5 linked regions of the Homo sapiens genome follow. The protein of the gene in region 1 interacts with the protein of each later gene in a pairwise test. Each region holds a gene or a part of one and is shown in the gene's direction. Other genes may lie near its edges.

Evidence for each region.
Region 2: the proteins of RAP1GAP (region 1) and KLF11 interact in binary tests that used the Homo sapiens proteins (3 or more experiments, as listed by UniProt).
Region 3: the proteins of RAP1GAP (region 1) and CSNK1G2 interact in a two-hybrid assay, tested with the Homo sapiens proteins (one large-scale study listed by BioGRID and IntAct).
Region 4: the proteins of RAP1GAP (region 1) and DNALI1 interact in binary tests that used the Homo sapiens proteins (3 or more experiments, as listed by UniProt).
Region 5: the proteins of RAP1GAP (region 1) and MAP1LC3B interact in a two-hybrid assay, tested with the Homo sapiens proteins (one large-scale study listed by BioGRID and IntAct).

Annotation. Positions count from the first base shown.
Region 1 is NC_000001.11:21,605,841-21,611,699, reverse strand, and holds part of RAP1GAP (rap1 GTPase-activating protein 1), read left to right. Parts: intron 1-118; coding exon 119-248; intron 249-1,424; coding exon 1,425-1,580; intron 1,581-2,053; coding exon 2,054-2,125; intron 2,126-2,394; exon of another isoform or gene 2,395-2,589; intron 2,590-2,763; coding exon 2,764-2,850; intron 2,851-3,349; coding exon 3,350-3,487; intron 3,488-5,502; coding exon 5,503-5,634; intron 5,635-5,859. UniProt on the Homo sapiens protein: GTPase activator for the nuclear Ras-related regulatory protein RAP-1A (KREV-1), converting it to the putatively inactive GDP-bound state.
Region 2 is NC_000002.12:10,045,197-10,051,055, forward strand, and holds part of KLF11 (Krueppel-like factor 11), read left to right. Parts: intron 1-135; exon of another isoform or gene 136-153; intron 154-953; coding exon 954-1,223; intron 1,224-2,453; coding exon 2,454-3,399; intron 3,400-5,859. UniProt on the Homo sapiens protein: Transcription factor. Activates the epsilon- and gamma-globin gene promoters and, to a much lower degree, the beta-globin gene and represses promoters containing SP1-like binding inhibiting cell growth.
Region 3 is NC_000019.10:1,974,213-1,980,071, forward strand, and holds part of CSNK1G2 (casein kinase I), read left to right. Parts: intron 1-896; exon of another isoform or gene 897-1,859; coding exon of another isoform or gene 1,860-1,902; intron 1,903-4,092; coding exon 4,093-4,133; intron 4,134-4,229; coding exon 4,230-4,299; coding exon of another isoform or gene 4,300-4,389; coding exon 4,390-4,538; intron 4,539-4,646; coding exon 4,647-4,881; intron 4,882-4,950; coding exon 4,951-5,036; intron 5,037-5,106; coding exon 5,107-5,191; intron 5,192-5,282; coding exon 5,283-5,431; intron 5,432-5,539; coding exon 5,540-5,623; coding exon of another isoform or gene 5,624-5,698; coding exon 5,699-5,805; intron 5,806-5,859. UniProt on the Homo sapiens protein: Serine/threonine-protein kinase. Casein kinases are operationally defined by their preferential utilization of acidic proteins such as caseins as substrates. It can phosphorylate a large number of proteins. Participates in Wnt signaling.
Region 4 is NC_000001.11:37,561,389-37,566,939, forward strand, and holds the end of DNALI1 (axonemal dynein light intermediate polypeptide 1), read left to right. Parts: intron 1-168; coding exon 169-347; intron 348-692; coding exon 693-857; intron 858-3,637; coding exon 3,638-3,673; 3' UTR 3,674-5,466; downstream 5,467-5,551. Other genes in the region: GNL2 (nucleolar GTP-binding protein 2), read right to left, coding at 5,467-5,551. UniProt on the Homo sapiens protein: Involved in sperm flagellum assembly.
Region 5 is NC_000016.10:87,402,336-87,407,633, forward strand, and holds the end of MAP1LC3B (microtubule-associated protein 1 light chain 3 beta), read left to right. Parts: intron 1-587; coding exon 588-762; 3' UTR 763-2,439; downstream 2,440-5,298.

The DNA of each region.
Region 1 (5,859 bases):
GCTGAGCAGAGTGTAATCTGACTTGTGCTCCTGGGCAGGGAGGGAGCCCCTGTCCTGGCCCCATGGAGGCCTGGCCAGGGCTGGAGACTGAGGCGTGGCCTGGGGGGCCCCGGGGCAGGTTCCGAGGAGGCCTGGACGTGACCCACGGGCAGACGGGGACCGAATCTGTGTACTGCAACTTCCGCAACAAGGAGATCATGTTTCACGTGTCCACCAAGCTGCCATACACGGAAGGGGACGCCCAGCAGGTAGCCTGGGCACCCCCACCTGCCTCCTGTCTTCCACCTGTCCTCCCCCTCCACCTGTCTGTTCAGCCTCCATCACGCCAGGCTCAGCGCTGGGCCCTGGGATGGAGATGGAAATGATCAGCGCCCCCACTTGTGGGGTCTCGTTGGGTCAGGGGAGACAGAAAGCCTTGGTTTCTACAGTCAGAATGGCACCCACTTCCTAGGTGAGCATAAATGCGTGGGTGCATAGAGGGACTAGAACAGTGCCTAGTACATTGCAAGAGTTCAGCAGATCTGAGCTGGTGTTTTATGGGGAGTGGAGAGCATCATGGGGTCATGTGGGGACATGTAGTCTTGGCAGAGGTGGGAGTCAGGAAAAGCTTTCAAGAGAAAGTGACTTTTAGTCCGTGAAGGAGCTGGGAGAAGGAAGGGAAATGTTCCAGGTGGCGAGAACAGCTTCTACAAAGGCCTGGACTCGAGGACATGCAAGGCATGTGCCAGGAACTGAACTCAGAAGCGTGTCCCCTTGTCCTGAGCCTCCTACAGGGCTATCTGCCTTCCCAGTCAGGTCCCCAGCCCAGGGGGATAAAAGGAAATGTGAGAAAAATGGAAATAGCTATTCCTTATTTTTAGTGTCTTTTGACTTTCGTTTACTAAGGGTCTGTGTTCATTTTAGCAACATGAATGTATACCAAGTTGAGCTTGTTTATTCAATTGGGGGCCATGTTTGGGGCATTGAGATAGGAGAAGGGCTGAGAGGTAGGGTCTGGGGACCAAGAGACCTGGGCTCGAGTCCCCAAGCTCATTATAGCTCATTATAGCACCTTCCAAGTCACTTCTCTCGGCCTTGATATCATCATCTGCCACAGCATCCCAAGAAAACTAAAATAATTTTTCTTGTAATTTCAATAGATATCCAGGTACAAGTGGGTTTTGGTTACATGGATGAATTGAATAGTGGTGAGGTCTGGGATATTAGTGTACCCTCATCACCTAAAGAGTGTACGTTGTTCCAAACAGGCCATTTTTCAACTAAAATAGTTTTAAGACAAGTTTTTTTGCTACATTATTTTGGGGAAAGCAAATCCTTAGATGTGCCCTCTGACTACCCCAAACCCTCCTAAACCCCCGTGGGCACCCCTCTCCCCCATGGGCCCCCTCTGGCCAGACCACGAAGGCCCGTGGCTTTGTGCTCAGTTGCAGCGGAAGCGGCACATCGGGAACGACATCGTGGCTGTGGTCTTCCAGGATGAGAACACTCCTTTCGTGCCCGACATGATCGCGTCCAACTTCCTGCATGCCTACGTCGTGGTGCAGGCTGAGGGCGGGGGCCCTGATGGCCCCCTCTACAAGGTGGGCGCTCTTGGAGCCTCCCAGGGGCATCAGCAAGGGCCCTGGCTGCAGCTCTGCCCTCCCTGGGATGCCCCTCTGAGCCTCACTTTTTCCAGCTATAATGGGGGGACCATGGAAGGCTTCAATGGTGCACTGTTCACACCACGCCCCCTGTCGTCCCCAAAGCTCACCCCCTCAGAGAGGACAGTTTCCCTCCTCTGCCTCCTGGCCTGGTATCACTGTCCTCCACCTCCCGTAGCCTCCTCTGCCTTCACCATCCCGATGATTCCTAAGGCCCCTACCCATCTCCACCACTAAAATTCAGGGCAAAAGATAGAGGGCAGAAATCTCTGGAAGAAAGATTCATCCAGCCCACAGTCACTGGGTCTCCCCGACCAAGGGGCAGTCCAGGGAGGCACAGTAGGGGTTTCTGGCTGGGTGGGGCAGAGCAGACCCCAGGCTCCACAGGAACAGACAGCTGCCCTCCCTTCCAGGTCTCTGTCACTGCAAGAGATGATGTGCCCTTCTTTGGACCCCCCCTCCCGGACCCCGCTGTGTTCAGGAAGGTGAGGGGCACCCCCCCAGTCATGGGCAGAGCAGGACAAATGGGTGGGGGCCTGGGGGGTGCATACACATTCTGCCTTATGAGGTCCCAAAGTCTCATTGTATGCCAGGGCAGCTGGGCTCCCCTAACTGCAACCGGGGCCTGGCTTTTCCATTCATCTTGAAAACACCTTTTTTTTTTTTTTCACAAGGTCACAGGATAAACTACACGATTGTTTTACACTTTCCATAGTAGACTGGCCTCTCCTCATTTCTGTTCTCTTTCTGACAGTTCCAGTCTCTTTCTTTCTTCTAAAATGTTTGGGGAGGGGCACACTTCAAGCCTGGGCTTCAGCTCTGTACGTAGCGTGTTCTGCTACCCTAGACTGAAGCAGTAGGTTGAGACCCCAACCCAGACCCTAACATCTGTGGAGTTTGCTCTCCCGAAGGCGTGGGCAGCCATGAAGGGCACTGGGGCCCCTTGAAGGTACCTGGGGAGCTGAGCCCAGGGAGATACCCTTTTGGGAGTGAAGAGGGTGACCCCAGGCCCCAGCAGAGCATGGTTCAGGAGCTGCAGCCTCTGCCTCGTTGGGGTTCCGACCCTTGTTTATGTGTCATCTCAACTTCCCTTCCTTATCTCCTCCACACTGGGAGTTTCCAGGGGCCTGAGTTCCAGGAATTTTTGCTGACAAAGCTGATCAATGCTGAATATGCCTGCTACAAGGCAGAGAAGTTTGCCAAACTGGAGGTGAGGATGGGCTGTGAGGGCTGGGTGACCCTCTTCTCACCTTCCAACCTATAACTTCAGCCCTGTCCCTGGGAAGGGAAAAGCCATGTTCAGACCTTGGCCTTAGCGGGGACACCTGGGGCTGGATGGATTGATGGACGAGTAGGAGGTCGGGGAGAGGAAGCCGGAGGGATACTGAGGAGTTCCCAGGAGATGCTGGGAGGCGGTTAGGCTGACAGGGACACCTTGGGACCTGTCAGGTGGGGGGGTGGACCTGGGGGGTGGGGACATGAAGCCAGATCTTGAAGGGGCTTTGAGGGGCCCTTCATATGAGGGTCCCTGGGGGATGCTTGAGCTGTGGAGTGGCCTGGGGGAAGGCGGTGCAGGAGCCCTCCGCCCTCCCCACTCCCCACTCATTCAGAGAAGGTGGCCCGTGCCTCAGAAGGTGGCCAGGATTTGAACTGTGGGCCGAAGGGCTGATCCTTGGGGTCCCTCCTGACGGCCCGGGCCTGGCCCACAGGAGCGGACGCGGGCCGCCCTCCTGGAGACGCTCTATGAGGAACTACACATCCACAGCCAGTCCATGATGGGCTTGGGCGGCGACGAGGACAAGATGGAGAATGGCAGTGGGGGCGGCGGCTTCTTTGAGTCTTTCAAGGTGAAGGGCCCCAGGTCTAACTGGCCGGGGAGCAGGGACGTGGCTAGGGCGGAATCCCGGGCTGAGGCTGATAGACTGATGGACACGGCGTGGGGGTGGAGTCTGGCAGAAGGGGCGTGGCTGAGGGGGTGGAGTCCCGGACTGGGGGATTGACACAGCATGGGGAGTGCAGCTAGAGGCCGTTCGCATTGGAGTCTGAGAGGGGGCGTGGCTGGGGCGAAGTCCCGGACTGGGGCTGATTGACATGGTGTGGAGGTGTGGCTAGAGGCCGCTCGCCTGCGGGTAGAGTCTGGGATGGGACGTGGCTGGGGGTGGAGTCAGGGGCCGGGGCTAATGGACATGGCGTGGGGGTGTGGCTAGAGGAGGCTCTAGTCTGGGATGAGGGCGGGGCTCGAAGTGGACTTGGGCTTTAGAATGGGCTTACACTTGGGGACATAGTCTGCCTTGGGTAGAGTTTGAAGGAGCAGCATGTAAGGTGGGGCCCTGGCTTGGGGAGGAGTAACTGTTGGAGGTGGGGCCTAGGTGGGGAATTCACCTGGGAATTCTGCTGAAGGGTGGAGGATTCTGGGAGACAGCAAGGGCTGCTGGTACAAAGGCTGCTAGGTCAGCAGGAAGAGAAGAGAGGAAGAGGCTCTGTCTTGACTGAGGGAAAGAAATAGAGTTCTCAGAAGAGGTGTGTGAACCATGATCATTGGAGAGGGACTTGGCCTGTGTGACCTACCCTGCCTGTCCCTGGTTTAGCTTAGCATTAAGAGCACGGACACTTCAAATTTCAGCTCTGTTACTTACCAGCTTGGGCATTCTGTGAGCATCAGTTTCTTTATCTGTTGAGTAGGGTAATGGCAACTTGCCTCATACAGTTATTGTTATCTGTAAAAGAGTTAGGTTAGTGCAATACAAGTTTAAAAGCAAAATGCAAAACCTTGCCTGTCTGCCTCAGCAAATGTTGTCTGAAATGAGAAGTGTGGGGAGTGGAGTAGTTCCTGGACAGGGTCTGGACTCACTCAGGCCACAGGGCCCCAGGTGGTAGCCTTTTTGCCACCGTCTCCTCCACCCACAGGAGGATAACTGCCCATCCTCCAGCTTCCCGGCCGGCTGGTCACACCTCACCCTCAACCCAGGACAGGTCACACAGCTGGAGCTATGGGTTGGAATAAGGGAATTAGCCCGGCTGCCCAGGCCTGCCCAGGAACTGAGGTGAACAGATCGTCTTTGAGAAAGAGGCTTGGGGACTGGAGACAGGACAGGTGGGGTCAATATGGATCTGGGGTGTCTCCTTTGAGGAGGGCTCCGATGGTCCCACATCTGGTAGGTGCTGGACGGTGGACCTAGATTAGGTCAAAGAATTTCTCAGAAGCAGCGGAGTCCAGAGTTGAGGGCATGGGTCCTGGCATGCCGGGCTCACCCCTGCCTCAGTTGGCATGAAATGGGCATGATTGCTAGTCCCCATCTTGCAGGGGGATCCAGTGATAGAGTGATTGTAAAGCGCTGGTCCCATAGCAAGCATTTGGTGTAGATTGGTCTGAAAAAAACAAGGAAAGAGGGTGGGAGGGAAGAAAAGAAAGAAGGCAGGAGAGCTCTAAGAGGCCCTAACAGGAATGAAACTGAGGTGTCAAGAGGGCTCTCTGTGCACACTTTTGGCCATGACCCAGTGTCTTCTGCAGTCCTTACGCAGCCACATGAGGACACTCAGCACAGAGCAGCCTGTGTGTCCCAGAGAGTGAGAGAACTGAAGTGGTGTCCCCAAGGCCACCCGGCAAGTTGGTGGCAGAGCCAATACCTGAGCTACCCTTAGGCCCCGTATGTACCTGCTTCTCATGTGACGCACAGGGAAATTGAGGCCTGGCCCCACCTCCCTCTGTTGCCCTGCTGGCCACATGCCCAGGGGAAGGGATTTCCAGGGCTTACCCAGAGTGGCATTGCTGGGGAGAGACCAGATGCCTGGGCTCCTGGGTTTCCCCAAGGGGACGGCCCTTAGGAATCCTGTGCCTCCTCCACTGCCACCCCCTTCACAGCGGGTCATCCGGAGCCGCAGCCAGTCCATGGATGCCATGGGGCTGAGCAACAAGAAGCCCAACACCGTGTCCACCAGCCACAGCGGGAGCTTCGCGCCCAACAACCCCGACCTGGCCAAGGCGGCTGGAATAGTGAGTGCCCTCCCCCTCCCCAGGCCCCGGCCCCTCCCTGGGGGGCCCTCAGCTCTCCTCTGCCTCCTGAGGCCTGACTCCAACTCTCTCTGTTGCCCTGCTGCCCACATGCCCATCCTAGGCTCTGGATTTGGTCTAGCCACTACTTTCCATGGGAGGGGGGTGAAGTGCCCAGGCCAGGACACTGCGGTGCTGACAGCTTGCAGCCTGCAGCCCCTTCCCAAG
Region 2 (5,859 bases), on another chromosome or scaffold:
GGGTGGATCGCCTGAGGTCAGGAGTTGGAGACCAGCCTGGCCAACATGGTGAAACCCCGTCTCTACTAAAAATACGAAATTTTCTGGGCGTGGTGGCGGACGCCTCCCAGCTACTCTGGAGGCTGAGGCAGGAGAATCGCTTGAACCCGGGAGGTCAGTTCAAGGCCAGCTTGACCAACATAGCAAAACTCTCTTTCTACTAAAAATACAAAAATTACCCAAGTGTGGTGGCGGGCACTGCAGTGAGCCGAGATTGTGCCACTGCACTCCAGCCTGGGCAACTGAGACTCCATCTCAAAAAGAAAAAAAAAACTGCAAAGAGATCCTCTCCGGGTTCGCGGCAGGTTGGCTTCTTGTCACCACCTGCTAGCCTTGGGACAGTAACAGATGACTTCCACTCCCGAATCTGTGGAGGGAACTGGTGGAATCGCCATGGGCCCTACCTGCGTGGAGTGCTGGAAGCCTAGGCGGAAGGCCCCAGAGTCCCTGAGAGCATCTGTAGGGACACTGCTTTGGCGGCTTTGCCGCCTCAGAGAGCCATGGTCAGGGCGCCGCGGCCACTGGCAGACCGACTAGATGGCCTCAGTGTTGGCTCCTCCTCCCTGGGCAGCTGCTCCTCCTCCCAGCCACTTTTTGGCTTGAACCTCAGGAGTTAATTTTATTAATCATTTACCCAAGAAAAATATGAACTTAGTAGCCCTTTTTAAGAGTCAGGATTTTTGGTGGCAACGCTTGCCAGCTTAGTTCTGTCTGTGAAATGTTGGCTTAAAAGCCGAATTGTCATGAGCATTCCTTGAATGTCTTTTACTACACCTCGGTGTTTGTTGCTATAGACTATTGCATGTGCATTACATGCCTACTGTAGGCTTCTGATATGCATATCCACATGCCCATCATGGGTGGCCTCTGTATTTCCCCTGCACTGAGAAGCCGTTGTGTTGTGTCGCCTTTAGGTTGACATCATGGACATATGTGAGTCCATCCTGGAGAGGAAGCGGCATGACAGCGAAAGGTCTACTTGCAGCATCTTGGAGCAGACAGACATGGAAGCTGTCGAGGCTCTTGTTTGTATGAGCTCCTGGGGTCAAAGATCCCAGAAAGGTGACCTGTTGCGGATAAGACCCCTCACGCCTGTCTCTGACTCTGGGGATGTCACCACCACTGTGCATATGGATGCAGCCACACCTGAACTACCAAAAGACTTCCATTCTTTATCGACTCTGGTAAGAGGAGGTGGGAGGGAGGAGCGTTTTTGTGAAATGACTAGAGTAGCTGAACTCAGTGTGTTGAAGAACTTGTGAGAAGATTCCCTGGGATGCTGGCAAATAAGTTGCGTATCCTCTCTGTGTGGGTCTGAAGGAGTAGAAACTCTTCCTTTGGCCAGGCATGGTGGCTCAAGCCTGTAATCCCAGCACTTTGGGAGGGCCAGGCAGGCAGATCACAAGGTCAGGAGTTCGAGACCAGCCAGACCAACATGGTGAAACCTCATCTCTACTAAAAGTACAAAATTTATCCGGGTGTGGTGGCGGGCGCCTGTAGTCCCAGCTATTCAGGAGTCTGAGGTAGGAGAATCGCTTGAACCCGGGAGGCGGAGGTTGCAGTGAGCCGAGATCGTGCCACTGCACTCCAGCCTGGGCAACAGAGCGCGAGACCCCATCTCAAAAAAAAATAAAAGAACAAAAAAAGAAACTTTTCTTTCATTTCTGAAAAATGTGCTCTTTCTATGGATGGATCATACCTTGCTAGCTACGTGGTTAATGTCCGTGGGATGAAACCTACAGATTAATGTGAGAAAGTGAAATTTACTTCCCCAGGGGAATCTCGGGGTGGAGCTTAGGTTCTCCAGCCTAGTGTCAGAATATATCGGTAGCAGCTGGAGAAAGCATGTACTTTGACATCAGATTGCCTTCGTTGGGTGGCACCTCTGCCCTCCCGTGGCAGCCGACTCCTTAATGTGAGTTCTGTGAGTTGGGTGCAGTAAGTCACTCTTGCTTTTTGTTTTTTTAATTTGCTACATCTGTGAAAGTACTTGGAAAAATTGCATCTCAGCTTGGAGAAGCTGAGAACTGTAGGTTGCTAACAGAAGTGGAAATTGTGATTGTCCTGGGCTGGAAGCTTGCTCTGAAAGAAGAGTGTAGAAAGCAGATTTGGAGAGGGATAGGAAGGGCCTGTGGGTTGTCGGGAGGGTTGCAGAAGTGGTGGGCCTGGCGGCCAGGAGCTCCTCTCAGAGTTCCCTGCACTGGGCTCTTGTGTAGGTTTGGGAGAGGTAAACACGTTGGGAATAAGCTGAGAAAGCAGAGTGCCTCATGCAGCCTTGAAACCCACTGGGATGTTGAAAACAGGGTTAACTGAGTGTCTAGATGATTCTGTGTAAAGGTATTGGGAGCATTGTGATGAATTAAATCCCTTTTAAAATTTAAAGCAACCTTTTAACATGGTACTTTTTTTTTTAGTGCATAACTCCTCCTCAGAGCCCTGATCTCGTGGAGCCATCGACAAGGACACCTGTTTCTCCCCAAGTAACAGATTCCAAAGCATGTACAGCCACGGATGTTCTCCAGTCCTCTGCCGTAGTGGCCAGAGCTCTGAGCGGGGGCGCGGAGAGGGGCTTGCTGGGTTTGGAGCCAGTGCCCAGCTCTCCCTGCAGGGCCAAGGGGACTAGCGTGATCCGACACACTGGGGAGAGCCCTGCTGCCTGCTTTCCCACCATCCAGACTCCAGATTGCCGGCTTTCTGACAGCAGAGAAGGAGAAGAGCAGCTTCTGGGACACTTTGAAACTTTGCAGGACACACACCTCACGGACAGTTTACTCAGCACTAACTTGGTGTCCTGTCAGCCCTGCTTGCACAAGTCTGGTGGCCTGCTGCTCACTGACAAAGGCCAGCAGGCAGGGTGGCCTGGTGCAGTTCAGACTTGCTCACCAAAGAATTATGAAAATGACCTGCCCAGGAAAACCACCCCTCTGATTTCTGTCTCTGTCCCTGCTCCCCCTGTCCTTTGCCAGATGATCCCTGTGACTGGACAAAGTAGCATGTTACCAGCTTTTTTGAAGCCCCCTCCCCAGTTGTCTGTGGGGACTGTGAGACCCATCCTAGCTCAGGCTGCTCCAGCGCCTCAACCTGTGTTCGTGGGACCTGCTGTGCCTCAGGGAGCTGTGATGTTGGTCCTGCCCCAGGGAGCCCTCCCTCCGCCTGCCCCCTGTGCAGCCAATGTCATGGCTGCCGGGAATACCAAGTTGTTGCCCCTTGCCCCTGCTCCAGTGTTCATCACCTCTAGCCAAAACTGTGTCCCTCAGGTAGACTTTTCCCGAAGGAGGAACTATGTATGCAGCTTCCCAGGTTGCCGGAAGACCTACTTCAAAAGTTCCCACCTTAAGGCCCATCTTCGCACTCACACAGGTAAGCGCTGGGGCAGGTGGGGCATTGGGCACACCAGACCCTGTGGTTAGGAAGCACACCTTGAGCCGCCTTTGGCTGGGAGGGGATCATGAGAACCCCTGGCGAAGGTGGAAGTGTGGCTTTTTCTTTGGTTCTGAAAAGCCCGCACAACCTTGTAAGGGTGGGATTGTTTGCACAGCCATCAGGATTTTGCCTACAGAGCGCTCGCCCTGGAAGATAAAATGTAGTATAGTTCTGTGATTGTGTCTTTTGGTAGCTTTTAGAGTGACTTACAGTGCCCCCTTCTGTTCACATTGCAGTAGACGTTTCATCCTTTTTTTTTTTTTTTTTTTTTTAAAGAAAACATGCATTCATTCACATTTAGTAAATGTATCTTACCAGTGTGACTTATGTTTATGTGAGAAAAGGTCTGGCCAAACTATAGAAAAGTTCAAATTCTAAAATATTTTTTAAAAGAGTATAGTTTTCTTACCTCTGAGAGTAGTTTTTAATTTAAAGTAAGTCACACAAGAAACTATGCTGACCTAATGATCTCTCTGTTGTCTAACCAGCTCTGTCCAATATAATTTTTTGCAATGGTGGAAATGTTTGTTGTCTGTCCATTAGGGTAGCCACTGGCTGCTCACACTTGAAGTGTGTGGCTAGTGTGCCTGAGGAACTGAATTTTACATTTTTTAGTATTTGAAGTTTAAATAGCTCCATGGGACCTGTGGCTGCCCTGCTGCGCAGCAGTGGTCTGAGTGTTGCTGGATAGACAATCGCTTCAGTAGGTGAGGGCACCATTTCTCAGGTGTTCTGTGAGTTTGTGTTCTGTTGCTCTGATCGTGGTAGCCTCCACGTGTAGAATAAAGTGCAGTCTGGTGTTCAGACATTATAAGAGGAACTCTACTACTCCATTCTACTGAGTGGCTGCTTGCTTTGAGGATAAAGCCAAACTTGGCCCATGAGGTACTCACCTCTGCCCATTCAGAAACAGTCTCCCCAACATTCTATGTCTGGTTCCATATTTCCACCCTTCCCTCTTGGCCCTCTGCCCATCTCTACTTACTGAAACCCTCTGAGGGCCTTCCTAGGATTAGTTATTAGATTGTTTCTTTATCTTCCTTCTTTGACCCTAGTGGTTTATTGTAGGTCTTACTATAGTCTCCCTTTGTTTTTTAGTTAGTTGTATATCTCACCTGGATATATTCCTGGTGCTTGATAAAAGGGCCTGACACTAGTCAGTAAATGAGGGTTGGTTGTTTGCATGGCAGATGGACGTGGGGCTGTGTCAGGGAACGGGTGTTTCTGAGGGGAATTGACCTGCCTGCCTCTTTTAATGGGCTTGTTGACTTGGTGAGCTCTGCATTTCACCGGGACTCTCCAGGGGAACTTTGCATTACACCAGAGCACAGCTTCCAAATGTTGGAGGTGACTGAATGAAGTTTTACCGTTTATTTGGTTTACCTTGGTAGAAGTACTGACAGAATGACCTGCAGTGATTGAAACAAGTTGCTTCCATGTTTCCTAAAGTACTTCCAATTCAATAACAGGCCTTGTACAGGGGCTCACGCCTGTCATCCCAGCACTTTGGGAGGCCAAGGTGGGCAGATCACAAGGTCAGGAGTTTGAGACCAGCCTGGCCAACATGGTGAAACCCCGTTTCTACTAAAAATACAAAAATTAGCTGGGCCTTCTGGCGCATGCCTATAATCCTAGCTGCTCAGGAGGCTGAGGCAGGAGAATCACTTGAACCTGGGAGATGGAGGTTGCAGTGAATGGAGATTGCGCCATTACACTCCAACCTGGGCGACAGAGCGAGACTCTTATCTCAAAAAAAAAAAAAAAAAAAATTGGCCAGGCACTGTGGCTCATACCTGTATTCCCAGCACTTTCCGAGGCCAAGGCAGGCAGATCACGAGGTCAAGAAATTGAGACCATCCTGGCCAACATGGTGAAACCCCGTCTCTACTAAAAATACAAAAATAGTTGGGCTTGGTGGCACGCTCCTGTAGTCCCAGCTACTTGGGAGGCTGAGGCAGGAGAATCGCTTGAGCCTGGGAGGCGGAGGTTGCAGTGAGCCGAGATTACGCCACTGCACTCCAGCCTGGTGACAGAGTGAGACTCCGTCTCAAAAAATAAAAATAAATAACTGTAAGAGTTCTGAAGAATCCCCTTGTGCCATTTTGTAAACTTGGAATTTTCATGAGAAGTAGAAACTGGGCAAGTTTACCTTGGATAAGATTGCTTTTTATATATATTTCTGCCAACCTGAAAAATATTTAAATTGGAGTAAGGTAGAGTGAATAGATGCTACCTTTTTTTTTTTTTTTTTTTTTTTTTTTGAGATGGAATCTTGCTCTGTCGCCCAGGCTGGAGTGCAGTGGCGCGATCTCGGCTCACTGCAAGCTCTGCCTCCCGGGTTCACGCCATTCTCCTCTCCTGCCTCAGCCTCCCGAGTAGCTGGGATTACAGGTGCCA
Region 3 (5,859 bases), on another chromosome or scaffold:
AATTGATGGGCTCACCGTTCTGGAGGCTGGTGAGCCCCAGATTGAGGGTGGCGTCTGGCAAAGACCTTCTTGCCATGTCATGGCAAGAAGGCATGGTGGAAGGCAGGACGGCACAGACCGGAGGGGGCTGGATTCGCCCTTTAGTCAGGAACCCACTCCCCTGCTGATGGCATTCACTCATCCACGAGGGCAGCGACTCAGATCCTCTCTCTAGGCCCCAGCCCCAGCCCCAGCAGTGCTGGATTGGGGACCAGGTTCCCAACACATGACCCTTGGGGGGTGCATCAAAGACACAGCACTGTGTGGAGTGACGTCTGTGCTGCTTCTTCCTCCCTTGTCACGGTCACACCTCCCTCACTCACCTGTGGGACAGCCTCACTGGGCGTGGCCGTGGTGTGTGCCGTGAGGTGTGGAGGGTGCCGTCTCCCGGCTTGAGCGCTGAGTTTGTCCCCGTGGCTCACCTTGTTTCTGTCAGGTTGGTTTCAGCGTTGCTGGGGCAAGGCTGAGGGTAAACATGAGCGACTCCAAGGCCAGGGAGCCCTGTGCCAAGGTGTGGACCTTTTGGGTTCTCAGCTGAAGTAGAGAATCCAGGGAGGACCCCGCACTCCGGCCATTGGAGCTGTGGCGTCCTCCCTCCTGTGTGTCCCCCGGAACCTCCTGAGCCTCTCTGGAGCTGTTCTCTGCCAGGCCCCGTGGGCTCTCCTGCCCTCTGCATGCATCGCGAGTACTGCCGGAGGAGGCCCCTTTGGCTTTCAGAGCCCAGAGCGCCCGACCTCCTCCAGGAGTCTGCAGATCCACAGGCCTCAGATGCTGCCACACCCACCCAGCACACACCCAGGTCTCTGACACGCCAGCCGCACACAGCGGTGGGGTTCAGGCGAAGGTTTCTTCCACAGTGCAGAGTAGAAGAGCCGGGAAGGACCCCATCACCATCAGATGCATCAGAGCTTCAAAGGCCCGCCCATCAAGACGCTGCCAAGAGCATGAGGCCAGCCAGGCTGGGGAGGACGTTGGCGAGCATCCGCCTGCCCGTCAGGGAGCCACAGCTGGATGATACATCGACAGACAGCAGAGGGACGGTGTAGCACACAGGCGAGGGCTTGTCCTCCTCAGCCTGGGGGAGCGCAGCTCAGTGCTTGGTGGTCAGCACGTGACTGACACTTTGCCGGAGAAGGGGACGGCTGCCCGCAGGAAGAGCTACACAGCCGTGTTCGCCGGAACTCCGCTCTGGAGAGTCAGAACTGGAGACGGGAGGGCGTGCCTCAAGGGCAGATGGGCAAACCAAACCCCATCCTCCCTGTGAGCCGCGGCACAGCACCAGGCGGGCACACGCAGCACGACACGGCGAGGAGCCCACCGCAGGGGCAGCCTTTTGGGCGGGGAAGGGGGGATGAATCCACTGTGAATCCCACCTCCGAAGGGCAGCGCAGGAAGGACACGCAAATGCTGGACTGAACCTGCAGCTGATTCAGGGGGCAGTGTCCTGAGCTCTAAAACTTCAAACCTGGGGCAGTGTCCTGAGCTCTAAAACTTCGAAATCTGACCAGGCACAGTGGCTCACGCCTGTAATCCCAACACTTTGGGAGGCTGATGTGGGCGGATCACCTGACGTCAGGAGTTCGAGACCAGCCTGGACAACATGGAGAAAGCCCATCTCTAGTAAAAATACAAAAATTAGCCAGGTTGATGGTGCCTGCCTGTAATTCCAGCTACTCAGGAGGCTGAGGCAGGAGAATCGCTTGAACCCAGGAGGCAGAGGTTCCAGTGAGCCGTGATCGCGCCAGTGCACTCCAGCCTGGGCAACAGAACGAGACTCTGCTCCAAAAAGAAAAAAACTTTGAAATCCCTCTAAAAATAAAATGGACCGGTGGATGGTAGCTGTGAGGATGGACCGTGTGGCAGGTTTAGTTCTGGGGCCTCGGCAATGAGTGTTGGGTGTTTGGGGCACGGCTCCTGTTGTTTTACGAGGAGAATTTCCTAATAACGTGTTACACTGGGGAGAACGTAGGAGGGGAGCCCATTTGTTCTGAAAACGCGGGGACCAGCCCTGGTCCCCGGCTCAGGACTGGAGGGGTTGCCCTGGTCCCTGGCTCAGGACTGGAGAGACCAGCCCTGGTCCCGGGCTCAGGGCTGCAGGGAGGCACCTGGTCTTCCCTCGTCCTCACGATCCTGCACCCTCAAGATGCCACGTTGTTGAGGCTGTTTAGGGAACTTGACAAGCTGATTGGAAACTGTGCTGAAATAGAGCCCAGGTAGTGATGCGGACAGGGCAGTGCCAGAAGGAGCCCCAGCGATTCCTGTGCTGCAAGGCACGCCCAGGACGGGGCACTAGCCGGGGGAAGAGGCTCTCAGGGCCCAGGTGGGACCCCAGCCTCAGACTATGAGGTCATGACTGTGTACAGCTCAGCCACCGGGCTTTGGGACTTTGAATCCACCTTAGCAGGGTTTCCAAACCCATTGTCTCCACGGCCACCCTGCCAGTCCAGCTGCAGCAGGGCGGAACAAAGTGGAGGCCTCTTTCTTGCTTTCTTTTTTTTTTTTTTTGAGACAGAGTTTCTCTCTTGTTGCCCAGGCTGGAGTGCAATGGCACCATCTCAGCTCACCACAACCTTCACCTCCCGGGTTCAGGCAATTCTCCTGCCTCAGCCTCCCTGGTAGCTGGGATTACAGGCATGCATCACCATGCCAGGCTAATTTTGTATTTTTAGTAGAGATGGGGTTTCTCCATGTTTGTCAGGCTGGTCTCGAACTCCCGACCTCAGGTGATCCGCCTGCGTCAGCCTCCCAAAGTGCTGGGATTACAGGCATAAGCCACCGTGCCCGGCCACAGAGGCCTCATTCTGCAGCGTATGCTACTCGGGCAAAGGCAGCTGACTGCAGACCCAACACGGTGACCCAGCTGGATGGTGCCTGAGAGACGGGGCTGCCCCACATGGTGCCCTGTCATGCCGCGGGACAGGTCGCCCAGCAGATGGTAGCTATGGCCCCAGTGCCATCCTGGGCTGGAGACACATGGGTGCCAGACACGTTCATGCCTGTCGTCTGGCCCAGCTGCCGTGGGGAGCCCTCCAGGGCCGTGTGCCTGCAGGGACCGGCCTGTTCACCTCTAGGCTCACCCCTCGGGTGCTGAGTCACCACAGTGGGTGGGGCCGTGCCCCCTCCCAGGCCGGCTTCCACAGCTGCCCCTGCAGAGCGCCTCTGTGTTAAGGGCTGGCCGCCTCCTTCCTCAGGGGGTGTAACATGTAAAAAGCTGCACCCTGGCCTGTACAGGGGCTCCCGCCTGTTATCCCAGCCCTGTGGGAGGCTGAGGCAGGCAGATCGCTTGAGCTCAGGAGTTCAAGATCAGCCCGGGCAACTTGGAGAAACCCCGTCTCTACTAAAAATACAAAAATTAGTTGGGTGTGGTGGTGCGCACCTGTAGTCCCAGCTACTTGGGAGGCTGAGATGGGAGGATGGCTTGAGCCTGGGAGACAAAGGCTGCAGTGAACTGCGATCTCGCCACTACACTCCAGACTGGGCAACAGAGCGACACCGTCTCAAAAAAAAAAAAAAAAAAAAGGTTCTGGGCCTCGTACCTTCTGCGCTTTCATGAGACTCAGCCCTGGAAGTCCTATGTGGCTGGTGGCCCCAGGGAACAGGACCTGGGCTCCTCTCTTCTAACCCATGTGGGCCACAGGTCCCTGTCCATCTGTGCTGGGGCTCACCTGGGGGCCGAGGGCCTCGGGCATGTGGGAGATTTGTCTTTGAGAAAGGGGTGGAGGAGTGTGGAGCCCTTGGGGCTGCCTGCAGGCCGTGAGAGACCTCCCCAGTGCCGCTTCTGTCCTGGGCTAGGGAGGTGGGGGGGCGGGGGAGGAGGAGTGGCAGACACTGAGGCGGTGACCACACGGGCAGGGTGCAGGTGTCGGGATGACTTGGCAGGCCATGGTGCAGTGCTCTGGCAGGCTGGGCCCAGGCCCTGCTGCTGGGCAGTGGTGTCATTTGGAGGGTGGTCCTTCAGGGACCCCCTCCTGCCTCCTGCCTCGGGGGTGGGCTGGGGAGGTCGGGGCTAGGTGGGCCCTGCGCTGGCGGTGCTGATGGTCTCTGTCCCCGCAGGAAAGAATCTCTATACAAATGAATACGTGGCTATCAAATTGGTGAGTCGGCCCCTCCACCCCACCCCCGCTGACGTGCCCCCCAGGGATTTCAGGGCAGCGACCCGGTCCCCTGGTGACTCGCTCTTGTGCCCCCAGGAGCCGATCAAGTCCCGGGCCCCGCAGCTGCACCTGGAGTACCGGTTCTACAAGCAGCTCAGCGCCACAGGTACCGGGCGGCCCGCGGGTGGGGCGGGGGCTGCGCAGGGGCAGGGAGGGGGCTGCCGCCGCACGCCCGTGCGTCTGTCCTCCGCCGCAGAGGGCGTCCCTCAGGTCTACTACTTCGGTCCGTGCGGGAAGTACAACGCCATGGTGCTGGAGCTGCTGGGGCCCAGCCTGGAGGACCTGTTCGACCTGTGCGACCGGACCTTCACGCTCAAGACGGTGCTGATGATCGCCATCCAGCTGGTGCGCGGCGGGCGGGGCGGGGCGGGGCTCGGAGGGAAGAGGGTGGCCCTGGAGGGGAGCGCGTGGGACGGGGAGGGGCCCGGCCGACACCGCCGTGCCCCCCTGCAGATCACGCGCATGGAGTATGTGCACACCAAGAGCCTAATCTACCGGGACGTGAAGCCCGAGAACTTCCTGGTGGGCCGCCCGGGGACCAAGCGGCAGCATGCCATCCACATCATCGACTTCGGGCTGGCCAAGGAGTACATCGACCCCGAGACCAAGAAGCACATCCCGTACCGCGAGCACAAGAGCCTGACGGGCACGGCGCGCTACATGAGCATCAACACGCACCTGGGCAAGGGTGAGCTGCGCGCGCGCGGCGGGGGGCGGGCGCCCGGACCCCGCTGAGGCTGCGCCCCTGTCCCCGCAGAGCAGAGCCGCCGCGACGACCTGGAGGCGCTGGGCCACATGTTCATGTACTTCCTGCGCGGCAGCCTCCCCTGGCAGGGGCTCAAGGTGGGCGAGGAGGCCGGGCAGGCGGGCGGGGACGCAGGGCGGGAGCAAGGCTGACCACAGACCCCCGCAGGCCGACACGCTCAAGGAGCGGTACCAGAAGATCGGGGACACCAAACGCGCCACGCCCATCGAGGTGCTCTGCGAGAACTTCCCAGGTAAGGGGTCCCTGCGCCCCCGCCCTGTGCCCCCCACCCCCCACCCCCCACCCCCACCCCCGCCGAGGCCCCGCTGGCGCTCTCTCTGCAGAGGAGATGGCCACGTACCTGCGCTATGTGCGGCGCCTGGACTTCTTCGAGAAGCCCGACTATGACTACCTGCGGAAGCTCTTCACCGACCTCTTCGACCGCAGTGGCTTCGTGTTCGACTATGAGTACGACTGGGCCGGGAAGCCCCTGGTAGGTGGGGGGGTGCCGGTATGTGGGAGCGGGGGACCGGGAAACTGCCCTGAGGGAGATGGGAACCGGCGCTGCAGCCCATCCTGACCCCTGCTCCCTCACCCACAGCCGACCCCCATCGGCACCGTCCACACCGACCTGCCCTCCCAGCCTCAGCTCCGGGACAAAACCCAGCCGCACAGCAAAAACCAGGTGAGGCCCGGGCGGGACCGACCGCCCCAGGGAGGGGCATGGGCGGCCAGCGTGACCCCCTACTGCCCCCACCAGGCGTTGAACTCCACCAACGGGGAGCTGAATGCGGACGACCCCACGGCCGGCCACTCCAACGCCCCGATCACAGCGCCTGCAGAGGTGGAGGTGGCCGATGAAACCAAGTAAGGCTCTGGGGCGGTGCCTTCGGGGAGGTGGGGGTGCCCTGGGTCCCCATG
Region 4 (5,551 bases), about 16 Mb from region 1:
TGGGCCACTGAAGGCACCCTCCCTGAGGCCCTTCTCTGAGGCCTTGCACTTTGTCTCCAAGCGAGAACACCCTAATGTCCTTCCCAAGAGGAAGGGTGTTTGCAGTAGACATACTGCAAGCCCCCTCCCCACGCCCTGTCTGATCTCATGGTGTGTGTGCATTGGAAGATGAGTTGATCCGGGAGGTCACCATCAACTGTGCGGAGAGGGGGCTGCTGCTGCTGCGAGTCCGGGACGAGATCCGCATGACCATCGCTGCCTACCAGACCCTGTACGAGAGCAGCGTGGCGTTTGGCATGAGGAAGGCACTGCAGGCTGAGCAGGGGAAGTCAGACATGGAGAGGAAAGTGAGTGGGGTTTACCGTGACCCTTGGTCCCATCTCTTCTGTAAACCTCAGGGCCACATGCTTATCATTCCAGCACTACATTCTGACCTCCTAAGGTGCTCTGCTGACAGTCACGACACCTGGACTTGCATCACCTCAGTGAGGGACCCCTGGTTGAGTATGATGGCCAGCCTGGTGGTCTTGGCAGAGTTGTTTCCGCTGTAGACGCTCCATGCCAGGCACTGACCTCCCACTGGGTGGCAGTATATACCCTGGCAATGTCATGTCCCATGTCCCTTCCACCCAGGCTCACACCATTCCATTCACCTGGCGACATCCCAGGATGACTGGGCATTCTCTCCTCAGATCGCAGAATTGGAGACGGAAAAGAGAGACCTGGAGAGGCAAGTGAACGAGCAGAAGGCAAAATGTGAAGCCACTGAGAAGCGGGAGAGCGAGAGGCGGCAGGTGGAGGAGAAGAAGCACAATGAGGAGATTCAGTTCCTGAAGCGAACAAATCAGCAGCTGAAGGTAATCAACGCGCAGGGTGGGGTGGAGGTGCCCCCTGCCCTGCGACCCAGCCCCACAGGCCAGGCATTCGGTTCCTTTTCCATGGCTTTTAAATGTTTGTCCACATGCACTGCCAAAGGATAAAGGAAGCTGACTTTGGTGGTGGGAGAAGGGGAGGGCTCCAGAGGGGGTCTCTACTCTCAACTCCAAATCTCTGAGGCGCCTCAGCCTGGCTCTCCAGTGGAGGATTCTTCTCCCTGGAAAAAAGTTGCCCATCCTCAAGGAAGAGGTGGATATGGCAAAAAGTGGAACTCCATTCCCCTGGAAGCTGGTATGTTGGAGCCTTTCTGGAGGGGGCTGGGCTCCAGGTGGCTTGCGTGGTAGTGCCATCCCATGGCTGTCTCCTCTGAGGCCCTGTTTCAGGGCATAACCAGGGAAGAAGTCAAAGGGCAGCAGGGCCCTTTGAGAGGAAGAACCATTTCAAATCAGAAACCTTCCCCAGAAATGTGGTCGGGGAACCCAGGCACAGGTGCTCTTCCTCGAAGTCCGATGCCAGCAGTGGTCTTTTATCCAGCTGAGGTGATAGGAGGGAGGGGGCTGGTGGACAAAGCTGGGCAGGAGGCCATGCTACAGGCACTGCAACTCCCAGCTGTTTGGTCCAAAGGTCTCAAAAGGTAGGCCCTAGATCAACATCGTCCTCACCTGGCAAAGCAAGACAAATTATTGGGCCCACCCCAGATCTACCAAATCAGAAAATTCGGGGTTGGGGTCCAGCAATGTGCTTTAACAAGGTCTCAGGTGATTCTAATGTTTGCAGAAGTTTGAGCATCACTGTTCTGGAAAGATGGCCTACTGACATTTAGTGGCCTTCTCCCATGGCCCTGGCCAAAGGACCCTGGATGGATCTCCCTCTCCTCCCTAGGCTCAGATAGAAACCTTACAATCTTGACATTGCAGGCTTGTTTGGTCTACACACCAGCAGGACTGGCCATTTGCGATAAAGAAGGCTTTCTGTTAACCACTACTGGAACTTTTCTTGTTGCACAAAGAAAAGCAAGAAACTTTCACAGCCAGAGATGAATCTGTTTCCTTAGCAGCCTCTGAGGCTGCTTTCCTTAACTGCCATATTCCTTTTTCATAAGCCTGAGTTCCTCAGTTCTTCCTGGATTAGCAACAAGAGCAAACCAAATACCTTAGCATGTTTCTAACATTTAAAAGCAATCTTGTAATCTCCAGGGTGAAAGATTCTTTAGAAGTTGGCATTTTTAAATTTTTTTTCTTTTGAGACGGAGTTTTGCTCTTGTTGCCCAGGCTGGAGTGCAATGGCACCATCTCAACTCATTGCAACCTCTACCTCCCGGGTTGAAGTGATTCTCTTGCCTCAGCCTCCTGAGTAGCTGGGATTACAGGCATGTGCCAGCACGCCCGGCAAATTTCTGTATTTTGAATAGAGATGGGGTTTCACCATGTTGGCCAGGCTGGTCATGAACTCCTGACCTCACATGATCTGCCCACCTTGGCCTCCCAAAGTGCTGGAATTACAGGCTTGTAATACAGGAAGTGAGCTATTTTTATTGGCTCAAAACTGCATTGCAAATAAAGCAGCTTTGCTGTCCCCAGGATAGACCTACCTAAAGATCTGTCCAGTATTATTTTATTGGCTACCAGAGGAACATAGTAAATAACTCCCAAGTGTCTTAAGCTTTACATAAAGAGGGACAGCTCTCGGCTGGGTGTGGTAGCTCACACCTGTAATCCCAGCACTTTGGGAGGCCGAGGCAGGTGGATCACATGAGGTCAGGAGTTTGAGACCAGCCTGGCCAACGTGGTGAAACCCATTTCTACTAAAAATACAAAAAGTAGCTGGGCGTGGTGATGTGCATCTGTAATCCAAGCTACTCAGGAGGCTGAGGCAGGAGAATCACTTGAACCCGGGAGGTAGAGGTTGCAGTGAACCGATATCACACCATCACACTCCAGCCTGGGTGACAAGAGCAAAACTCCATTCCCCACCCCCACCCCCCAACAAAGAGGGACAGCTCTGTATTCACTGGCAGCATTTCTCTAATTGTGTGCCAAGTTGTCTCAGTGGCTGAAAATTCACTGTTTCCCAAACCTCTGGTCCCAGCAGAACTCCCAGGATCCTAAACCAGAGAGCCAATATTTTTTTTTTTTTGAGACGGAGTCTCCCTCTGTCACCCAGGCTGGAGTGCAGTGGCACGATCTTGGCTCACTGCAAGCCCCGCCTCCCAGGTTCATGCTATTCTCCTGCCTCAGCCTCTGGAGTAGCTGGGACTACAGACGCCTGCCACCACGCCCAACTAATTTTTGTATTTTTAGTAGAGACGGGGTTTCACCGTGTTATCCAGGATGGTCTGGATCTCCTGACCTCACGATCCGCCCGCCTCAGCCTCCCAAAGTGCTGGGATTACAGGAATGAGCCACTGCGCCCGGCCAGAGAGCCAAATGTTTAACTTAGCAGACATATTCTGGCCTGAAACCTGAGCCATGAAAAGCCCTTACAACAATGCATTCAATATCCTTTTCAATGCTTTATATCATACCCGGAGCCATTATTGTGTTGAAACCAGGACAGCTCTGGCTTCTCCTCATATACTAAAGACTGTATGCCAAGCTAGAAACTAGCTAATCTAGAAAATATGGATTTGGGGATCAAGGGGAAAAAGAACCCTTGGAGTGACAGCATGTGGATTCTTCTTCCCAGAGATTTGATCACCTCTCAGCTATTTGTATCAGGCTGCAAGTTTCAAGTATTAATGGAGCTTGTTTTTGTTTTTCAGGCCCAACTGGAAGGCATTATTGCACCAAAGAAGTGATAATTTCCACATGATTAATTTCCAACAAGACACTTGGGAGTTATTTACTGTGTTCCTCTGGCAGCCAATAAAATCATCATAAGCCCTTTGTAATAAAAAGCTAGTTTCCTGAGTGAACAAGCCATAACCTCCCCTAAACACCACCTAGGTATTTGTTAGAAGTCACACTATTACTCCAATGTCATCAGACACCTAAGGTCTGCCAGCCAGGCTCCTGGCTGGGCAATGGAAGATGGTGTGGCCCTGTTAGTCTCCGTGTGTGGCTTACTAGCCAGCCTTGGGAACTGCCAACTCAAATTCTAAGAAAGCCACTGCTTTCTCATCATCACTCTATACCAATACTTATTTCTGGCCAAATGAATCTGCTTCTCTGCCCCTCAAACTTTTAGTTCACAATTCATCTTCTACCTTAACTTGGGCTTCTTGGGCCTCTGGCCTTCCTTACTTAATGTCTTCTTTTCCCTACTCTAATGCATTTCTAACTCACTTTGGAGCTTTGGTTTTCTAATGTATTATCCCCACTTGCCAGTCAACTGGACCCCTTCCTCCTCGGTTTCAGACTGCCTACATTAGGAAACAATGGCAGTCAAACCCATGGCTTTGGAGAAAGTAAATGTTTGCCAGAAAGGAATACTAGTCACAGTGGCCTTTGTGAGTTGTCTGCAACTCAGCTCTTCCCCCAGCACAGATCTGTTCCCCTTATCCTGCAGAAAATCAAGCCCTGACTCTGCACTCCCCGAAGTAGTGATGTTAATTAACAACTGAAGAGGTAACTAAATCTCACATGCAGGTCTAATGACTAATAATTGGAGTACGGCTGCTAGACAACTGCATTTTAGTATTTCTCTTCCATTCTCCTGGTTTTGTAGACCCAGAAGATTGAATGAGTGACATAAATCTTTAGTTCGGGGCAAGCCAGGGTGGGCTAGGGTGGTAAGCTGGAGGACTTCATCCTTCAGTTAGGCTGCACAAGTAACATTACCTAAAAGGCACTAACATGCTCAGGTTCCCCAGAAAGAGGCGTAAGAAGGGCCTCTCCTTAGCAGAGCTTCCACCTGCCATCCGTCTTGGGTTCAGTGAGCTTCAAGGCTCACAATGGAAGCACTGTCATTTCCCCAGAAAAGCTGTGTTCCCTATGCTGAACACACCATACACATTCTCATCTGGAATCTAAGGAGCAGCTTTTACCCTGATCCAGTATCCTGAGGAATTTTAAGCCTCCACTCAAATGACCTGCCTGTGTTGTCATTTCCATGGGAAAGAACTCTTTCCACGAGATCTGCTAGTTCCAGGCCTCTAAGACAGGAACGTATGTGCCATAAGTGGGTCTACTTCACAGACTCAATGAGGCAGAAATTATTGTAGTTTTCTCCTATTTCTTCTGCACCCAACTTTCTCCTTGTATTTCAAAGGCCAGGCCATGTACACTAACGTCCTTGAAATTTGCAGTTCTGTATGCTTCTATTCCAAATCATTCATTACCAATAAAAACGAAATACCACCCTTTCCATTTTATAGACCTCATCCCCTATTTCTGTCAGACAGTTATATGACAGGGTGACTGTGGAACCTCTTAGTTCATCCAAAGTCTACCTGAAGTGCTAGACTTTCAGACTCTTATCACTGAAATCCTTAAGGTTGAGGAGGCTTTATTTCCCTAGCACTGGTGAAGGGCTTCAACTGTCAAACCTCAGAACAAATGCATTAGGGCCTTAGAAATGTCAATGGGGCAGGAAGAAAACACAATTTCTAACTGCCTGTTTTTGTATAATTTAATAAAAACCTTTTAAACATTACTGCTTTTGTCTGAATTTTTTGCGTTTGTGTTTCTGTCCCTCTGAGTCATTGGTCTTCTTTTTGTTCCTGTTCCTATTTTTC
Region 5 (5,298 bases), on another chromosome or scaffold:
TTATGAAACTTACAGTTAAATCTTTAGTTCTGGTTAAAATCTTTAAAAAATATTTTTCAGCTGAATTCAGTTCTGATTCAGTTATGATTAAAACAATTTCAACTTAAACTATAAAATGTTTCTTTTTTTGAGGTTTTATATTACTTGCTAGACTGCAGAGCCCGTTTCTTTCATCATAACATCGTTTAGATGTTTCCTGTTTAAAATCAGTGTTACAAGTTATTAAGGTATTGTACAGCAAAGCTAGTTAAAGAGAATGTAGACTCTGTGAGTGGCAGTAAATGGCACAGGCTTAGATCTTAGAATAGTTCAGAAACTGTATTTGAACTGCTTTCTTATATTAGACAGTTTAACAGCTGTTCAGACAGTATACTAGTTTAAAATCAGCCTAATATGTAATCTTTCAGTGATTATAGCTCATGTCAATATAATCAAAGGAAGTGTCCTGTGCTTTATGAGAAGTATTGGATTCAAGAGCATTTAGAACATTTTTATATTTTACCGATCAGAGTGGGTGATATTTTAACACATGCTTCATCCTTCTTGTATTGTTGTCAATATTTCTTCACGTTGTTTTCTTTCAATAGAAGGCGCTTACAGCTCAATGCTAATCAGGCCTTCTTCCTGTTGGTGAACGGACACAGCATGGTCAGCGTCTCCACACCAATCTCAGAGGTGTATGAGAGTGAGAAAGATGAAGATGGATTCCTGTACATGGTCTATGCCTCCCAGGAGACGTTCGGGATGAAATTGTCAGTGTAAAACCAGAAAAAATGCAGCTCTTCTAGAATTGTTTAAACCCTTACCAAGGAAAAAAAAGGGATGTTACCAACTGAGATCGATCAGTTCATCCAATCACAGATCATGAAACAGTAGTGTTCCCACCTAGGAGTGTTAGGAAGTTGTGTTTGTGTTTCAAGCAGAAAAACTGAGCTCCAAGTGAGCACATTCAGCTTTGGAAACTATATTATTTAATGTAGGCTAGCTTGTTTTCAAATTTTAAAAGTTTAAAAATAAAATACTTTGCATTCTAAGTTGCCAATAAAATAGACCTTCAAGTTATTTTAATGCTCTTTTCTCACTAATAGGAACTTGTAATTCCAGCAGTAATTTAAAGGCTTTCAGAGAGACCCTGAGTCTTCTCTTCAGGTTCACAAAACCCGCCGCCTTTTTGGGTAGAAGTTTTCTACTCAGCTAGAGAGATCTCCCTAAGAGGATCTTTAGGCCTGAGTTGTGAAGCGCAACCCCCGCAAAACGCATTTGCCATCACAGTTGGCACAAACGCAGGGTAAACGGGCTGTGTGAGAAAACGGCCCTGACTGTAAACTGCTGAAGGTCCCTGACTCCTAAGAGAACCACACCCAAAGTCCTCACTCTTGCAGGGGTAGACATTTCTGGTTTGGTTTGTTCTCTAGATAGTTACACACATAAAGACACCACTCAAAAGGAAACTTGAATAATTTATAATTTTGATCGAGTTTCTTAAAAGACCCTGGAGAAAGAGTGGCATTTCTTCTGTTTCAGGTTTTGTCTGAGTTCAAACTAGTGCCTGTGTTGTTACGGAAAGCAGCAGTGTACCAGTGTCACTCTGGAGTACAGCGGGAGAAACACAAAATAGTATAACTGAAAACATTAACATTCAGACACACTCCCTTCTGCCTTCCGGCTTAAAGCTGTGGATGATCCACGTTTTTGTTTTTTTAATGTTAAATGTGTAACTCAGTATTACTGAAAAGGTACCCACATTTTGAATAGTAGTTATCACTCTTAGGTCAGACAGCCATCAGAATTCTCCCACACCAAGTGCATGTCAGTTGTGGAGAAAACATAGCAAAAAGAGCCGTACGCTCTTTACAGATACTAATGTCAAGAGTTAAACCTCCTCAGGTTCAACCTGTGATAAAAGACTAGTGCTTCCCAGTACTTGCATGGGGTTCACTATTTATAGTTTTCTTGGGAGTATCACAGGAAAATCACAATTACACCACTTTAGACCCTATGTGTAGCAGGTCACAACTTACCCTTGTGTGTTTAGATGTGTATGAAATACCTGTATACGTTAGTGAAAGCTGTTTACTGTAACGGGGAAAACCAGATTCTTTGCATCTGGGCCCTCTACTGATTGTTAAAGGAGTTCCTGTCACCTGCTCCCCCCACCCCCGCATGCGTCTGTCCACTTGGCTAACTTTTAATATGTGTATTTTTACATTATGTATATTCTTAACTGGACTGTCTCGTTTAGACTGTATACATCATATCTGACATTATTGTAACTACCGTGTGATCAGTAAGATTCCTGTAAGAAATACTGCTTTTTAAGAAAAAAAATAACATGCTGAGGGGTGACCTATATCCCATGTGAGTGGTCACTTTATTTATAGGATCTTTAAAACATTTTTAATGAACTAAGTTGAATAAAGGCACAATTAAAAACTGTCATCAAAGCCCAGTTTAATGGGATTCCGTATTTGAGACTTGGATCCCACACTGTTTGTACTTTCCAAAGCCAAGCGGGTCCTTGTATTTCCAAGGAGGGGCATCCAGGCTGGTCCTCTCGTGCAGAGGGGGCACTCACGTGGATGAGCATTGCCCTCCGAGGGCCTCTGCCTTGTCAAGGGCACCCTCCACCTTGGCCAAGGCCCTGCCACCAGGTCTGGCCTTTACAAAGCCAAGTCCTCTTGAGAACTCACGTGCCACGGGCTATCAGGATGGATGCGAATTGACCTACATGTTTTGTGGGACTATAACACCCAACAACCTACTGCTGTAAACCACCCACCACCATAAGTATTTATTAGGTATGTGTGTGTGGTCGAGAAAGTGTACCCTTGGGGGACCCAGTGGGGAGCTGCTGGCATCGTGTACAGATGCAGCACACACACACTTCAGCACTCAGACCAGACAAAAAGTGGCCAACCTCATCATCTAGGGAACTCTGAGCCCAGCTCCCGTTTAAGTAGGCACCTAAAAGTCTGTTGAAAAATACAAGGGAGTGACCTGAGAAAACTGCCTTCCCAGGCCAGCTGCTCAATAGAAGCGTCTGCGTCCCTTGTCCCGTCTTCGGAGCTCCCCGTGGGTGCTGTAGCCCCACTCACTTCCCTGACATCACCAGAGCACATGCTCAGTATGTTGCCACCTCCCAAATCCAGAAGGGTGTGGTCTTAGATGCCATGGAAGCGATTCTGTACAATGCCGAGTCAGTCACAGGCTGATGTGGCAGCTGGTGGCTTGTGTCACTGTGTCACCCACCTCCGCAGCAGGCCTGCTCCCTCCCTGGGAAAGAGCTACTTCAGGGTAGGGCCACATTGCCAAGGTATCTTGAGATCCATTCATGCCAACTTTCATTTTCATGGAAACTCGTGAACTCGTGCTGGAACATCTTTAACCCCAAATCAGGAATTTACGTCTTTGTTATTAGCAGGGACACTTAAAAAAAAAAAAATACAAAACTTGGCCAGGTGTGGTGGCTCACGCCTGTAATCCCAGCACTTTGGGAGGCTGAGGCGGGAGGATCACCTGAGCTCCGAAGTTCTGGACCAGCCTGACCAACATGGAGAAGCCCAAGTCTTTACTAAAAAATACAAAATTAGCCGGGCGTGGTGGCGCATGCCTGTAATCCCAGCTACTCGGGAGGCTGAGGCAGGAGAATCGCTGGAACCCGGGAGGTTGGCGTGAGCTGAGATCGTGTCACCACATTCCAGCCTGGGCAACAAGAGCGAAACTCCATCTGGAAAAAAAAAAAAAACACAAAACACTTGGCAACTTGATTGAGAATCAACAGATTTAAAATGAGGTATCCCTGCTGTAAATGTGAGAGGCTAGAAAGGATGGAACCCCTAGTTTGGAGATTCAGACTGATGTGAAAAGGTGTGTGCTTCATATTCTGAGACAAAGACCTAGTGAAATAAAACAGCCTTTTTTAAAATTTTTATTTTCAGTACATTAAATTTACTCATAAAAACATTCTAAAAATGTACAATTTGTCCTTTTTAACAAAGTATAATAAAACATAAAAACCCCAAAAACAGAATACTTGACATTTACAATTCAAAATCAAATTAGCGGAATATTAAATATTTACAAAACTATATCTTTTAAAAATATTTATAAAGTTACATGCAATTTTGTAGAATTGACAAAAGAATGGCTCAAAAATGGGAGAATTTTCCTTCATTCCTAAAAAGAAAATATGTCCAATAGAAGCTGTGAAGGTATCGAGTACACAAGGTGTCCAGTTTCAGTACCAAAGCCTTCTCTTTTTGTGCACGTAAGACTCACACATGTGATGAGGGCTTGTTACAACGCACGTGAGGCCGCGGCGGATGGCCACTGCCCCCTTCCTTGGTGAACAGTGGAGCAATGTTAACCTTTGGCCTCAACCAGCACAGTATATGGTTTTCTAGAATATTGCGAGTGTTGAGTGTTGATTAAAGATGCTTTCATTCAGACCCTTGGGACTTTTCAACAAATTCGCCTCTTCAGAACCCATGGCTTTCAGTGCCACCTGACTCATTCTTTGGAAGTCACCTGCATGCTGGAAATGGCAGCCACCCCCGCTCAGGTCGCACAGGACTCTCCTCTGGGACAGCAGTCGAGTCAAGCAGGGAGACGGCTTTCCTCACAACCTTGAAGACCATCAGTCATCATGATGTACAACGAGCAAGGCATAAAATAAAACACTGGGAAGCAGGAAGAGTGACAAGAAAATGACAGGGAGCAAGGAGGGTGCAACCCAGTTCCCATCTGGCAAGTGCCTAAAGCCCCGCTCAGCCTCTGTTCCAGCTGGGTGATGTTTAGGCAAAGTCACTACCCCGCCCCACTACTGTGCCCCAAGACAGAGTCTGTGGTATAAACTAACTGTGCTGACTTTGGGCAATAAAGGACCTAGAATTCTAAGTACTGAATTAAAAATACAGAACCTACTAACACTACTGTATTAACAAGCTGACTCCTGTAATCTTTTGGAGATGACAGATGATACTGGTTTTTAAAATACCCAATCACATATATGCATTCAAGAAAATATTTTGTCTTTATTTTTATTACAAGTGCGCTAGCTCCCATTTCCTCAGTGCTCTTTAGCAATGAGTTTTTATGTTAAACACTTCCAACTGTCAGTATTACCATGAAATCAACATTAGAAAATAAGGTAGAAAACTGAGTGTTTTGCTTAAAAAATAAAAAAGGATTAAATAGCTGTTGTATCCAAACATCACGTTCTGCTTCCATCTCTACATTCCACTTTCCCCATTCTTGGAGATTAAAAAAACAGGGTTAGAAACTTTAATATCTGACAGA